Regions from separate parts of the Homo sapiens genome. Here region 1 is linked to region 2. A link means that fine-mapping ties the variant in region 2 to the expression of a gene that starts in the linked region. Tissue or cell type: whole blood. Region 2 holds a variant in brackets; the other region holds the start of a gene. All regions are shown on one strand. Distances are between the middles of the regions.

Region 1 (8,000 bases), 50 kb before region 2:
TTATTATCTTCATTTTCAAAAAGTGAAACTGAGGTAAAATATCCCATGACTAGTAAGTGATGAAGTTAGGATTTCAATCCAGGCAGTCTGATTCCAGAGCCCATCTTCTTACTCACAAATGAAGATTGTTATACATTTATGTATTTTTTTCCATGAATATTTTCTGATCATGTACTCATGGTGCCTAGTATAGGAGCTGGGGATAGAGTAGGCAGCAATCAGAATCTCTGCTACCATGGAGCTTATATTTCTAGTCAGGGGAAATAGGAAATAAATAAGTATTTATATGAAGTGGTAATAAGTGCTGTGGAGAGAAGTAATGCAAGTAAAGAGGATAAGGATGTTGGGGAGAGAGTTGCTATTTTCTGTTGGGCAGTTAGGGAAGAACTCACTAATAAGGTGACATTTGAGCAGAGAATTGAGAGAGTAAGCCTTGAGAGCATCTTGAAGAAGTGTTCACTCTTCTACTGTTCAACTAGTTGTGTAAACCACTAGTGGTCCTCTAGTATCCATTGTCTCCTTTCTTTATGTAAAGAACCTCTAAATTTTCTGTTGGCATATGACCACTGAAAATGAAGATTAGATTTTGTAGCTTTCCTTACAGCTAGGCTTGGTCATGTGATTGATGTGTGCAGTTGCCAGGCTGTGCCCTTAAAAGAAAGGGTATGCCTTCTCCTTTCCTTTTCCCTCCATCTCACTAGTTGGGATGGGACGTGGCACACATGGTGGTAAATTATTTTGGACCTTAAAGATGAGGACTACTTCCTTGGAGAAGGCAGAACAACTGAAGGCTACCGTGGTAGCCTCAGAGTACTTATATTTGGATGGTTATGTGAGAGAAAAAAATAAACTATCATGTTTAAGCCATGATATTTTGGGTCTTTTTATTACAGCATTTGTGTGGTAGGTAGAAGTTTTAGATCAGGGGTCCCCAACCCCCGGGCCACAGACTGGTACCAGTCATGGCCTGTTAGGAACCAGGCTACACAGCAGGAGGTGAGTGGTGGGTGAGCAGGTGAAGCTTCATCTGTATTTACAGCCACTCTCCATCGCTCACATTACTACCTGAGCTCTGCCTCTTGTCAGATCATTGGTGGCATTAGATTCTCATAGGAGCATGAACCCTATTGTGAATAGCACATGCTAGGTGGCATGCTCCTTATGAGAATCTAATGTCTGATGATCTGTCACTGTCTCCCATCACCCCCAGATCGGATTGTCTAGTTGCAGGAAAACAAGCTCAGGGCTCCCACTGATTCTACATTATGGTGAGTTGTATAATTATTATATATTACAATGTGATAGTAAAATAAGTAAAGCTCACAATAAATGTAATGCATTTGAATCATCCTGAAACCGTTAACCCCTCCCCTGGTCCGTGGAAAAATTGTCTTCCACTACACTGGTCCATGGTGCCAAAAAGGTTGGGGACCACTGTCTCTGAGATTTCCTGCTCTCTAGTATATATCTCCCTAGTATACGCTGCATATTCCATGGGACTGTGAATGTGACAAATTTTACTTATGTGAGAAGGTTATAATATATGGCATAGTTGACTGTAAGAGCGATTGTCTGGGTGGGCCTGATCTAGTCACATGAGTCACATGAGCCCTTTAAAAGCAGAGTGTTTTCTTTATGGTTGCAGAAGGGGACATCAGAAAAGTGTGAAGCATGAGAAGGGTTAGAGGCACTGTTGTTGGCTTGAAAATGGAGGAACCACATGTCAAGGAAGACAGGTGGCCTCTAGGACCTGAGAGTGGCTCCTGGCTAATGGCCATGAAGAAAACAGGGACATCAGTCTTAGAACTGCAAGAAACTGAATCTTGCCAACAACAATAATAGCTTGGAAGTGGATCCCCCCACACCCCCCACCCCCTAGAGCCACCAGATGAGTAGCCCCGTCAACATGTTGACTTCAGGCTTATGATACCCTGAGCAAAGAATCCAGTAAAGTCATGCTGGACATCTGATCTACAGAACTGTGAGGTACTACATAGGTGTTGTTTTTAAGCTGCTTAGTTTGTAATAACTTGTTATGCAGCTCCAGAAAACTTGCGCGTTAGTGGGGGTTCTCCAGAGAAACAGAACTGATAGGCTGAGAAGTCCCACAATCTGCTGTCTACAAACTAGAGAACCAGGAAATCTGGTGGTGGAATTCAATCCAAGTTTGAAGGCCTGAGAACCAGGAGCACTGATGTCCATGGACAGAAGATGAATGTCTCAGCTAAAACAGCAAGTCCACCAGCTGCCTGTTTAAATTCTGTTTAGGCAACAGATTGTACAATGCCCATCCACATTGGTGAGGATGATCTTTACTTAGTCTACCTATTCAAATACTAATCTCTTCCAGGAATACCCTCAAAGACACACCCAGAAATAATGCTTTACCAGCTATCTGAGCATCCCTTAGCTCCGTCAAATTGACAAATAAAATTAACCATCACAGCCGGGCATAATAGCTCGCGCCTGTAATCCCAGCACTTTAGGGGTGAGGTGGGAGGATTGCTAGAGGCCAGAGGCTCGAGACCAGCCTGGGCAACATAGTGAGACCCTGTCTCTACAAAAAAATAAATAAATAACAGTCATAACTTGTGTATCTCCTAACTGATACACAAGCAGACAGCACAGCTTGTATGTAGTCTGTGAGGTGGGGGTATGGCTGGTGTGATTCAGGCACAGCAGTAGTAGAGTGTGAATGTGAAGAGAGAAGCCTACAGAGGTAGCAGGCAGTTATCAGCAATTTGTAGGCCATGATAGGACTTTGGCCTTCAGCTGAAGGAATTAGATGAGGGGGCATTAGTGAGCTATGAGCAGAGGAGTTATAGGATCTGCCTATATTTGAAAAGGATCACTGGCTGCTCTAAAAAGAATGGATTGTAGGGGCAATGGTGAGAAGCATGAGAAGGATCTGAGGCAAGGAGAACAGTTCAAAGGCTGTGGAAAAACCCAGGTGAGAAATGATAGCAGCTTAGACCAAGGTTGTAGTACTTAAGATGGTGGGAAATAGTTGGATTCTGGATATATTCTGAAGGCACAACCAGCAGAATTTCCTGAAGGATTACTTATGGAGGGAGGGGGAGAGAGAGAAAGAGAAAGGGAAAAAGAAGAGGGAAAGAGAAAGAAGGGGTTTGGAAGAGGTCTCAAAGCTGACTCCAAGGTTTTGGTGTGAGAAACCAGAAAGAATGGATTTGCCATTGACTGAGGTGGGAAAGACAGTGAAAGGAGCAGCATTTCTTTGGTGGGGAAAGGGTGGTTAGGAGCCTGCTTTTGGACATTTTAAGTTTGAGATACCTATAAGCTCTCCAGGTGGAGACATTAAGTAGGCAGTTGGATATACTAATCTGATTTCAGAGGAGAGGTGGGCTGAATTTCTTTTTTTATTTTAATCATCAACTTTTTTTTTTTTTTTTTTTTTTTTGAGATAGAGTCTCCCTCTGTCGCCCAGGCTGGAGTGCAGTGGCGCGATCTCTGCTCACTGCAAGCTCCGCCTCCTGGGTTCACGCCATTCTCCTGCCTCAGCCTCCCCAGTAGCTGGGACTACAGGCGCCCACCGCCACGCTCGGCTAATTTTTTTGTATTTTTAGTAGAGACAGGGTTTCACCGTGTTAGCCAGGATGGTCTCGATCTCCTGACCTCGTGATCCACCCGCCTCGGCCTCTCAAAATGCTGGGATTACAGGCATGAGCCACCGCGCCCGGCCTCATTCAACTTAATTTTTAAAAATTAGCCCCTCCATAAGCCCTTCCCCAAAAAATCCCCCTCCCCCCGTGCCAAATAGATGTTGAGCTCCTTGAGATCAAGGATTTTGTTTTATTCGGGCTTCTTTTGGGGAGGTGGGATAGGGTAGATGGATACGTTGGGGGTGGGGATGGGGGAGTACCAAAGACATACCAAAGACCTGGCACTAGTTTAGATACTCAGCGAATGGATATAAACACCTGCTTACGACACCCTCTGGATTGCTAGTCTCCCGAGTCAACCGTACTGCACGTGCAGTTCAGACCCCGCCTGGTCCTCTACAGGTCCCTGTCCCAGGCAAGCCTTAGCCCACAGGTTGAACCTAGTTCTGCCCCTCCAGGCTTGGGCTCTGCCCTCTCGGCCCCGCCCATATCGGACCCTGGCCCCTCCTCTTTCTGGCTCCCCCGGATGCTCCTGGCAAAGACTCGGTCCTTCTGGAATCTTGTAACGGTTCTAACAGCTGGGTGCGGGTGGAGCTGCGGGTGAGTCCTCGGCTCCGGATCCATTTCTCTTTGTTCCCTAGGACCCCCTCCCACAGAGTCCGCCTCCTCTTCCCCGCTCTCCCAGCCCCCTCCTTTGCCTGTTAACGTCTTCCCCTACCTGCATCCTGACCATCATTTGCTGTGCCTGCTCCTCGGCTTTCTGTCTTCACGACCTCCTTAGGCTGTGGGCGAAGACGTCATGGGACTGGGGCTCTGCTGCCTTCGAGTGACGACCTGTTAACCCGTTTTTCAGGCGATCGCCAGCTCGAGTGCAGATTCCTTGCTGTGACCGAGGTTCAGAGTGAGCTCTGTCGGTGTGTCAGTTTGCCTCTTCAGGTGATTGCACGTCTGTGTGCGAGTCTCTCCGTGTATGGGTGGCTATGATTAGGGTGAGCCTCAGACTGGAACTCAAGTCTAAGTTCATTCACTGCTCCAGCAGGCACTCTTCAATGAAACCTCATCAGCAGATCGGGCTCTCTTCCCTTGCCTTGCCTCCTAACCCCCCTAGGCCAGGTGAGGGGGACAGGGTACTGGGAGGTAAGAAGGAACTCTTCTGCAAGGAGGGCTCTCACGTCTGTCTTAGGCCTGCTCCTTACCAGAGTCTTTGGGGAAGCAGTAGGGAGGGCCTGAGGGTCTCAGGAAAGGCTCTCTGCTGGTCTGGCTCTGCTCTGTAGCTCCATCTATTTCCCTGTCCCAGGTCCTTTCTTCCTCCTAACCCCATTGACTCTGACCATCCCCTGCCCAGAGCCTGAGGTCCCTTCTCTGGCCCCTCTGCTGGGCTGGCCCATGCAGGTGAGGCCCCGCATCTGGCATCCTGGAACTGGCAGTTGGAGCCTGAGCTATGGGCAAGGTCACTTCGACAGCAGTTGAATGCCCAGCTCCTCATGGTCCCGGAGGAGAGGAGGGTAGGTTTGTCTTCTGATGAGACATCATCTGATTCCCTTAAGTCTTGGCACTCCATATGTGTCTTGGACAGCAAAGAACAGCCCTTGGCCTGCCAGCAGAAACAGAGGCAGTTCGTGAAGCCAGTGACTGAGTCAGAGCAGCCCACAGTGCTGGAACTCCTGCTAGCTGAGCTCCGAACTCTGTTCTCAGCTGTGTTGCAGGACAGTAGCCCTGCAGCTTGGCGCTATCTTCATGCAGTACTGGGTCTACTGCCTCCATATCGTGAGTTGCTAGTTGGCCACCTTGATTTGCTGCCCTTCCTGGAGCAGCTGTACTGCTGGGCACCCTGGGTCCAAACCCACCTCCATCTGGACCTGCTAGGTGCCATTGTCCAGGCCTTTCCTCCAGACAGCTCTTTGTTAGACAGTGCTTCCCATGCTGACTGCTGTCCCCAGAAGCGGAGGCTCCATCACAGGCCCCCATGCCCAGCTTGCCCTTTTGTGCAGGCCCAGTGGAGCAGGCAGCAAGTAAAGGAGGAGCTGGCCACCTGGCTGCGACCATTGACACTGCCTGAGCTACAGCGCTGCCTGGGCATTGTTGGTGCTCAGGTGGCCCTAGAAGAGGCTGTGTGGCTGGATGGACTTAGTCTCCTTCCCTTGGCACTGGCAGCGGACATCCCTGTACGGTATGAAAGCAGTGACACTGACAATGCAGAGGTGGAGCCTGTTGGAAGAAAAGAGACCAGGTAAGTGAGGGACTCAGTCTAGGGCTTGAGCAGAGGAGAAAAAGTTGCTGTTTTATGGGTGCCTCTGGGGTCACTTGGAAGTTTAGATCCAGCTCTCTGTTTATCACAGGGATTAGCCCAACTCCACACAAAGCTAGTGTGAGGCTACTTTCCTCTTCCTTTTTCTCTGCAAAATAAACCCAGTGGTGTTAGTCTTAATCCCCATAGAGAAATACAGAAATTAATGAAAATCAGAAGTCAGCTATGAGGCAGCCAAAGCTTTAGAATAACAGCTTGACTTTTCAGTTTCCAGGTTTTTTTCTTAGATGATGTCAGAAGTCTCCTTAATTATTTTTCTATAATTCATTCATAATCACTGAACATTGCCTGGGCCTACTGTGAGTTGATTCCTGGATGTTGGGTCTTTCCCTCAAGGTACCCCTGGGGAATGTGTGTCCGAGTGTCCTTCCCACATGTCTATGTGACTTAAACCGGCTCCAAGGCAGAGTGGAGTTGGCAGCACTACTGGATAGAATTTCATTTTGACCCTTCCAGAGTCTTCTTCTTGCCCTGCCAGTGTGGGCACTCTGGCCCCTTGAGTGATATATTTTTCTTTTGTTTCTTTCTTTCTTTCTTTCCTTTTTTGAGATAGAGTCTCACTCTGTCGCCCAGGCTGGAGTGCAACGGCATGGTCTCGGTTCACCGCAACCTCCGCCTCCCGGGTTCAAGTGATTCTCCTGCCTCAGCCTCCTGAGTAGCTGGGACTACAGGCACGTGCCACCATACTCAGCTAATTTTTATATTTTTAGTAGAGACGGAGTTTCACTATGTTGGCCAGGCTGGTCTCGAATTCCTGACCTCATGATCCGCCCACCTCTGCCTCCCAAAGTGCTGGGATTACAGGCGTGAGTCACTGCGCCCGGCCCTATTGTTTTCTTTTTTAAAATATCTGGCTATCAGAGCTCTCTACAGGATTTCAGAATGCTTACAGAGACCTTCTCTTCTCAGCGTTCTCTAACTTTCGATTTTTTTTTTTTTTTCTGAAACAGAGTCTCACTCTGTCGCCCAGGCTAGAGTGCAGTGGCCTGACCTTGGCTCACTGCAACCTCTGCCTCACAGGTTCAAGCGATTCTTTTGCCTCAGCCTCCCGAGTAGCTGGGATTACAGGCTCATGCCACCACGCTCAGCTGATTTTTGTATTTTCAGTAGAGACAGTGTTTCGCCATGTTGACCAGGCTAGGTTTCCAACTCCTGGTCTCAAGTGATCTGCTCACCTCGGCCTCCCAAAATGCTGGGATTACAGGCATAAGCCACCGTGCCCAAGAGAGTTTTTTAACTTTAGTTTTGGAATTCTCCTTGTCCTCTGGCCTCATTTTCTAGACAATGCTTTGCAGCTGTCTGTGGCACATTTACTGTTCGGGAAGAAGGCTAGTTTTACCTTTAATTAAGGTTGGCTTCCTCAGTTTTTGCTGTAAGTTTATGGCTGGGTCAAGTCTTTCCATTAAAGCCTAATGTTAGATAGATAGGCAGGCTCCTGGGGCCCTAATGGGAGGTGGCCAATGCCATAAATTTATGGTGGCCCTATTGGAATCTTTTCCTTTTTCAAAGAGCTGCCCTGTGCCTTGAGTACAAGTTTCCTTTCCTGGGAGAACTTGACTGAATTGGCATGGGCTGAGATGTTGGGAAGGGATCAAGTTCTTTGCCCTCCCTTTGAACCTGGCAGTAAACCTCTGAGGTCTAGCTAATATGGCTTAATTTGCATTACGTTCTCCCGGAGTGGTTTGCCAGGCATTCATTCATTCAATAAGTGTTGGATAGCTACATTTATTAGGATCTGCAAGATGCTAGGGATACAGAAGTGAATGAGACAGACTCAATCCCTTCACTTGAGGTATTACAGTTTAGTTAGGGAGATATAGTTAAGTTGATAACAAGTAAAATATAATTACAAATTGTAATAAGTGCTATAAAACAAAAGAATACTGTCTTTTGCCTGGCTGCTTCTCTGCAGGTGGGAGAGAGAGAGAGAGGGAGTGTAGTTAGGGGGAAAGCATGTGGGGGGAGTGTTCAAGTCTAGATTAGATTAACAAAAACATCAAACAGAGTTTCAAGGAGGAGGGAGCAGTCAGTAGTATTACATGTTAAATGAGACAAGTAAGAAGAATGAAAAT
Region 2 (8,346 bases):
CCAGTGCTGTTTTCTCTAGAGAGTGGAGTAGAAGTTGTGTGACTCTGAGAGCAGGATAATGAGTTTTCTTCCCACCAGGGATGTTTGGAGAGTCCTACATGTGTCTGAATAAACCTCCTTTCTTGATTCTTCTCATTTTTACCCCAATTAGTGTCCCTACCTCATTTCCAGCCCTAGTCTTACCAAGCACTTGTGGCATGAAGGGATAACTCTTTAAGCAGCACCAGGGAGCCAAGCACTAAGACTATGAGAGAAAAGTTTGTTCTCAGCTTCTCTACCAAGACCCGTTTTAAGACAGAATGGGCATTCTTGCTATAGAAATATTACGTAGGGTCCTGGAGCCATTCAGCCCTCTTCCCGGGCTAGAGGCTCTAGTTCTTACAAAGCACTTCCATGGAGTTACGTGGATACTCATAGCAGCTAGTCAGGGAAATTAGCTGGCCTGGAGTCTGCCCACAGTGCCTTGGGAAAGGAGGAGCTTCTTCTCTCACCATTTTGAGACCCCAGTGCTTTACTGGCTCTACATATTGGCTGATGGAATCCTTAAAGGCAGAAAGGGCAGCTGGGCATGGTGGCTTACACCTGTAATCCTAGCACTTTGGGAGGCTGAGGTGGGTGGATCACCTGAGGTTGGGAGTTCGAGACCAGCCTGATGAACATGGTGAAACCCCGTCTCTACTAAACATACAAAAAATTAGCCGGACATGGTGGCACACACCTGTAATCCCAGCTACTCAGGAGGCTGAGGCAGGTGAATTGCTTGAACCCAGGAAGCATAGTACAGTGAGCTGAGATCGTGCCATTGCACTCTAGCCTGGGCAACAAAGCGAGACTCTGTCTCAAAAAAAAAAAAAAAAAAAAAAAAAAAGGGAAAGAAAAAGACAGAAAGGGCATCAGGGTCTCTGTAACTGCCTCTCCTGGAAGGTTCCCCTGGTCTCCTCTTCTCTCCCCCAGCCCCGGCCCTTGCCTCATCTGACTGCCAGTTCAGCTTTTTCTGTCTTAGATTACAGCAACCTGCAGGATTCCATCCAGGAAAGTCTTCAGGTGTTGTCCAAGATCTTGGCCATCGAAAAGTCAGGAGATTTAAACAAAATAGCTTTGGAGTGGGTGGCCATCATGCATGGCCTGGGTAAGTGCAGGCCTCTAGCCAGGCTGATGGGTGAGACCTGAGGCAGGATGTCCCAGAGGGATGGGGGTGAGAGGTGGAGGTTGGGTGGGAGAAGATATGAAGAACACAGTGAGGACCTCCTTCAGGGCTGTTTCTTGGGATGAAGAGATCAGGTTTTTATTCACAGTGAAAGTTTTTTCTCCCTCAAGCAAGTTCCCTGAGTCCTGCTGGGCAGAGTATTTTGCTTGGGCTGGTGGGGTACCTGAGAGGTCAGGAGCAGGGTGGACTCCCCTGCAGAAGGTAGAACCCTAGTGTTTCCCACCAGCATTCCTCTGGCTGCTTACACAGGTGCCCTGCTGGAGGTGTGGCTGACTTTCCAGCAGAAGTGGATTTTTCTGAATAAAGTTCTGCATGAGATGAAGATCCAGTTTCCTAATGCTGACCTGGTAGGGAAGGGGGTTGAGGCAGAGAGGGCAAGAAGGGTTCCTGAATAGCAGGGCTCAGCGTGGGAAAGGGGAGCTGCCACTTCATATTGGCCCTCACTTTTATCCTCTCCCTCACCACAGAACTCTCGTTTCAAGGTCATGGATGACCAGTATCGAACCCTGATGCGCATCTCTGTAGCTGACCCCATGGTTCTGTCACTTGTAGTGCCCAGTGCCGAGAGGAGCCCTTACTTCCAAGGCCAGCAGCTGCAACAACTGCTGCAAGCAGGATCGGTGGAGCTGGAGGGCATCATCATGAGTCTGGAGAGCGTGCTCTATGGGGTGTGTGCTCACTTCCCCCGCCTCTTCTTCCTTAGTGACAGTGAGCTGGTAGCCCTGCTGGCTGCTCGACTGGAATCATGCGAAGCCCAGCTATGGGTACGACGCTGCTTTCCTCATGTGCATGCTGTGAGCTTCAGGTCTTGCCCAACTGGTGAGAAAAACACAGATGACTGGGAGTCAAGCCCAAACACACAGACTCAGGTGGAGGCACTTGCAGTGCTAGGGGCAGGTGGGGAGGAGGTGAAGCTGCAGGGTCCCCTTCCTCTGCATCCAGATCTCCCTAAGTGGCTGGCCTCTCTGGAGAAGTGTCTGCGCTTGGCACTGGTGCACATGCTGCAGGGCTGTGTGGCTGCTCGCCTTGCTCGAGGCCCATCTCTAGGTGAGGCCCTCAAGCAACTGCCCAAGCAAAACAAGTTGTACCTGCAACTGTATGTCCAGCACTGGATCGACTTAGTCCAGGCCTTCCCATGGCAGTGTGTGCTGGTGGCAGAGGAGGTGGTATGGCGGGCCGAGATGGAGGAGGCTCTGCTTGAGTGGGGTACCCTGGCCATGGTCTCCATGCATATGCGCAAGCTTGAGGTACTGGTGAATTTTATGCGGGCCCAGAGGGCTTCCCAAGGTGGGCAGTCCCTGCCTTCTGTCCGCCAGACCAGCCTTCTCAGTGCCCTGCTGGTCATGGCAGTGACTCACCGGGATATAGCACAGCTGCTGGAACAGCACCAGGTCAGTGATCTCACAGACTTTCACTGGGTCCGCCAACTCAAGTATCACTTGGGTTCACCTCACATAATCCCCAAAAGCCCCCTACAGAGTCTTAAGACTATTGCATCTTCTGAACCCTCTCTGTCACCAGCGGCATGCTGGATAGATGTGCTAGGCAGGTCCTTCCTGTACAATTACGAGTATCTGGGACCTAGACTAGGGCCTCTACCCAGCCTACTGCCTGAACGGCCAGCCCTGGTACTATTATTGGCCCTAGAGGAGGTGGCCTGTGGGACCGTACTGGGTCCTAATGGTGTGGGCAAGAGAGCTATAGTGAACAGCCTGGCACAGGCCCTGGGCCGCCAGCTGGTGATGCTACCCTGCTCACCTCAGATAGAGGCTCAATGCCTGAGCAACTATCTGAATGGTGCCCTGCAGGGTGGTGCCTGGCTGCTGTTGGAGAAAGTTCATCAGCTGCCCCCTGGCTTGCTCTCTGCCCTGGGCCAGCGCCTGGGTGAACTGCACCACTTGTATGCCCCACTGTACCAGGAGGCTTCCCGAAACACAAGCACCATAGACCCCACCCAGCCCCAGCTCCTTGGCAGTAGCTTCTTTGAAAAACATCACGTGTCTGTGCGCCTTGGCTATGGCTGTCTCCTGGTACTGCGTGCCCTGAGCTCTGCTGTGCCTGCCAACCTGCACCTGCTGCTGCGGCCTGTGGCATTGGCATTGCCTGATCTGCGGCAAGTGGCAGAGCTGACTCTGCTGGGTGCAGGGATGAGGGATGCCTTCCAGATGGCTACCCGCCTATCCAAATTCTTCTCTCTAGAGCGTGAGCTGGTGTCTGGGCCCCTGCCCTGCCGCCTGCCACTGCTCAAGCAGATACTGGAAGACACAATACGGACACTAAATGTGACCAAGGAGGAACCGAAGTGCCAGAAGCCTCGCAGCCTAGCTGCCATTGAGGAGGCTGCCCTACTGCGCTCACCACTGTTTAGCATTCTCAATGGGCTCCACCTGCACAACCTCCGAGGGCTGTTGTGTGCGCTTTTCCCTAGCGCCAGCCAAGTGCTGGCAGAACCTATGACTTACAAGCTGATGAAGCCATTGGTGGTGGAGGAACTGCAACAGGTAGGTCTGGATCCCAGCCCTGACATTTTGGGGTCCTTGGAACAGTTGAGCCAGGCCCTGAGCCGGGCCTCAGGCATTCTGCTCCTGGGCCCTGCGGGCAGCGGCAAGACCACTTGTTGGCACAGCTTATTTAAGATCCAGAATCGGCTGGCAGCCA[T/C]GGAGGACACCTCAACCCAAGGCTGCCAGCCTGTGGAAATTACCCACCTGTACCCCAGTGGCCTCAGCCCCCAGGAGTTCCTGGGATGGCTAGAGGGCTCCTGCTGGCATCATGGCATCTTTCCCAAGGTACTTCGTGCAGCCGGTCAGTGTAACAACATGGGCCAAAAGAGGCAGACAGAGGAATCAATCGGGATCCAGCACTGGATAATATGTGATGGAGCCTCCAATGGTGCTTGGCTGGACTCCATCACTTGCCTCCTGAGTGAGCTTCCCCAGCTTAGTCTCCCCAGTGGACAGCAGATAGCACGACCCCCAGGCACCTTTCTCTTGATGGAGGTGGCTGACACAACAGGCATATCCCCCACAGTGGTAGGCTGTTGTGCCCTAGTCTGGTGTGGTGGAGAGCAGACTTGGCAGTGTATACTTAGTGCCCTGATGGCATCCCTTCCTTATGAGTACCGCCTGCAGCACCGGACAGTCGCTGAGCTCAACCACATGGCTGAGGTTCTGGTGCCTGCAACATTGCGATTCCTCACCTGCCAAGGTGTCAGCTCTCTGCTGCAGGTACACGGGCAGCAGGCTGTTTGTGCAGGTGTGGCAGAAGTTACCAGCATGGCACGCATCTTGCATAGTCTGCTTGACCTCCACCTTCGCCTAAAGGAGGAGAAGGCCCCTGGCCCAGGTGGGAAGATGGACGGGCTGGTTTGAGAGAGATGGGGCCTTAAGGGTAGCTGGGGTATATAGCTGGAGCCTGGGGCGTGTGTTCTTTGGTGGATCTGGGCCAGGAGTGAAAAGTAATACTGTCAACCTTTTTTCTTTCTTTCACCTTCCACCTTTTTCTACTGGGGCTCCTCTCGTGGCCATGGCAACTTTCACAGAGGACCTCAGCTATAGTGATCCTGTGGCCCAAAGCTTCAGGTCTTCAAAAAGCAGCTTTCTAAACCGGTCCCAGGTTGACAGTGACGATGTGCCAGATAAGTGCAGGGAACACTTGCTGGCTGTCAGCAGTTTTCTTTTTGCCTTGATCTGGGGCTTTGGAGCCCACCTTCCCTCCAGGTACCTACCAGGATGGGGGATGGGAGATGCAGAGGGCTGAGATGGACTGGCCCATGGAAGTAAAAACCCACATGACATCACTGTTAGGGTATGGTGGAGTGTGTGAGTGTGTCATAAATGGAAGTGTTGTAACTGTCTGACGCTTTTGCCTGTGTGTCCATCTGAGCAGGTTCTGGCCCATCTTTGATACCTTCATAAGGGATTCTATTAGTCGCCTCTCCAACTACCCTGAGCCACCACCCTCAGCCTTGGTGTTTGATCTACATGTAAGCCCTGAAGATGGAACACTGGTCCCCTTCACTGGCCAATACCTGAGCAGCCACATCAAAGGAACTTTGGGCACCTTTCACCCTTCTATCCAGGTGTGAGGACAGTAAGGCAAGAGCTGGGGTTAGAACTTCAGGACTTATTTTAGGGGTAATCCATGTTCAAAGATCAGCTGAGGCCCACTTGCTCCCTTTCTTTGATATATTTTCACAATCACAAGAATACATGAAATATTTTCCAAGTACAGCTCTAGGACAAGTCCCTTAGACTTTTATTTTCAGCTAGATTACTGTCTTATACTGGAGGTGCTGCAGTAAGTCCCACTTCTGTCTTGCAGACTGAACGGCTCTTGTATGTGGTGGACCTGCTTCTGTCAGGGGGACAGCCAGTGTTGCTGGCTGGAGAGGCAGCAACAGGGAAGTCAGCCTTTGTGGAGGTGCTGGTAGAGCCACATCACCCTTACATATACAGCCCCATCCACCCTGCCTTCAGTTCCTCCCACCTCCGTCTCCTGCTGAGCAGAGGAATCCAGGGCCAAACACAAGCCAGCCCACAGCCTGGGCATCACCAGGATTCTAAACCCTCCCTCCTCTTCTTGCTGGAGGACCTGCACCTAGCCACTTCTGGTGAGGAGCTGCGAAGAGGGAAGGAAGGAGCTACTGTCATCTCTTGAGACTATAAAATCCCTAGCAATATTCATTGACTCTCAAATATATGTCTGTAGATCTAACTTTAGTGTTCTGTTCTTAATATCTTCTCATTCTACATATGCTCCCTGAACAATCCCATCCACTCTCATGGCCTCATCTCTGCTTTGCTAAATCTCTGTGTCCAATCTCACTTCTTTTCTAAGCACCAGATCTGTCTATCCAGCTGTCTACTGTACGTCTCCACCTTGTTGTCCTGTTGGTACCTCAGACCCAACCCTGAGCTCATCATCTCCCCGCGGCCAAAATCTGCTCCTGTCTGTCCTCTTAGTTTCACCATCCAGCCAGTCATGTAAGCCAGAAATCTTGTTGACATCTCATTCTCCTTCACCAATATCCAGTCACCATGTCTTTTCAATCCTACCTCCTTCATATTTCTTGAATCTTTCCACTTATTTCCATGGTTCAGATGATCTTTACTTGGAAATCTGACAAATGCTCTTACAAAGCTTTCTGTGATGAGGCTTTCTTCTGTGTCCTCTTACACTCTCTCTAATTGGACTTAACAAGTCAGGCTTCCTCTAGACCCTGGGATTGCTGTCCTCTCTGCCTTCTCTATGTGGCTAAATTCTACTTATTATTTCTAAATTACCTAAGGCAGTAGCTTCTCCAGGAAGCCTGATCCATAGGCTCGGTTAGATATCCATCCTGTGCTCTGTACAATAATCTGTGATAACCATGATTTTATTATTGTATGCTTGCCTATCTGTCCCTTTCACCACACTTGGAGATTTATGAGAACAGAGAACAGAAATTTGTCTCATTCATTTTGGTAGACCCAACAGGAAGTAAGTGCTCAATAAAAGTTTGTAGAAGACAAGATAACAAAGGAAAGGAGAAAAATCTTGATAAAAATTTGGGATATTGAAGTGTAAAGTTTCTAAAGTGGTATGCCTCTAGATGATGAGAGTTTCTAAATATGGCCATGGGATTGGGAAGTGAATTTTAGGTAGAGGTTGTTGGAGTCAAGGAAGTCAATGGGCTGAAGCACTGGATAGGCTATCCAGTTAAACAGCGAAGTCTCTTATGAGATGTAGAAAACTTGAACCAGATGTATTCGTACTTAATAATAGCCAGTACAATTTATTGAATATCTACTATGTGCTCTATGATATGTCTATGTCATCTTCAGTGCTCATAAAAGCCAAGTAAGATGGGGAATTTTTGCAATTATTTTAAAGATGAAGAAACAGAGACAGAGATTTTAGAACTTGCCCAAGATACCCTAGCTATGAAGTGTCAGAACCAAGATTAAAATTCAAGTCTATTTGGTTCCAAAACCTGTAGTTCCTTCCAGCTATATTATTTGGTCTTTGCAATGAATTTGCACAAAATTAGAGACAATAGAAGGAGTAAAGAGTGGTACAGTCAGATATATGAAGAGATTTCAGCTGAGAAGAGACTTCAGCAACATTGTAGAGTGAAGAATATTACTGCTGGCAGAATGTAAAAGGTGTCCTTGAGTGACAACCACCAGAACATCCAGTATAAAATAAAAAATAAATAGACATGCCAACAAAAACCCCCAGAAAATAATGTGACCTGCTGTCAAGAAGAAGCAAGCAATAGAATAGAAACTGACCCTGAGATCTATATAGCTGTACGCTGTCCAAAAGATGCACTTTAAATATAAAAACACAGATAGATTAAAAGAAGTTTTTAATGCAAAATATTTACTACAGAAATAGTTTGCATAAGGAAGTTGATGTGGCAATATTAATACCAAAGCACTTTAAGACAAAGGATATTACCAGAGATAGAAAAGGACATCTCATAATTGAAAGATTCAACTCATCAGAAAGACAAAAGTCTTAAATGTGTCCACACCTAAAATAGACATTTAAGTATAGGGAAAAAAAGCCAATAGAAACAAAAGAGACATAGTAAATCTGAAATCATATTAAGAAATTAATATGCCTCTCACAATAACTGATAAGACAAGGAGCAAGAAAGTAGGGACATTAAAGATCTGAATAACACTAGCAACACACTGACATTTACAAAACATTATACTCACCAACTGCAAAATGCACCTTCTTTTCAAATGCACATGAAACATTCACCAAGATAGACCATATGCTGGGTTACAAAATAAGTCTCAACAAATTTCAAAGGATTAACATTTTAAATAATATTTTATCTGACCATAACAATACAAATATTGATAAGATGCCTAGAGAATTTCCAAATTCTTTAAAATTAACACACTTCTAAATAATGTACCAAAAAAGAAATTACAAGAGAAATTAGAGAATGTTTTGAACTAAATAATAATGAAAACAAAACATATCAAAATTTGTGAGATGCAACTAAAGGTTATAGCTTTAAATATCTATCTTAGAGAGAAAAGCTTGGAATCAATGACCTAAATTTTCAGCTTAAGACTCTAGAAAAAGAAGAGCAAGTTATACCCAAAGCAATTAAAAGGAAATCAATAATAAAGAACAGA

The links. PIP is the estimated chance that this variant, and not a neighbour inherited with it, causes the effect.
Region 1: it holds the start of DNHD1, and the variant in region 2 is fine-mapped to the expression of DNHD1 in whole blood (TOPMed, PIP above 0.99).

The regions. Positions count from the first base shown.
Region 1 is chr11:6,493,112-6,501,111 of GRCh38, forward strand. It overlaps DNHD1 (dynein heavy chain domain 1), which reads left to right and starts at 4,169. Exons shown (of 43, transcript NM_144666.3): 1 at 4,169-4,220; 2 at 4,474-4,556; 3 at 4,660-5,850. The coding sequence starts at 5,105.
Region 2 is chr11:6,543,118-6,551,463 of GRCh38, forward strand. DNHD1 (dynein heavy chain domain 1) reads left to right here. Exons shown (of 43, transcript NM_144666.3): 19 at 1,004-1,129; 20 at 1,457-1,554; 21 at 1,675-4,549; 22 at 4,746-4,923; 23 at 5,093-5,285; 24 at 5,528-5,816. Among named protein-coding and RNA genes, the nearest start is that of DNHD1, 50 kb to the left of the region's middle. The variant T/C (reference allele first, on the strand shown) is at 3,866.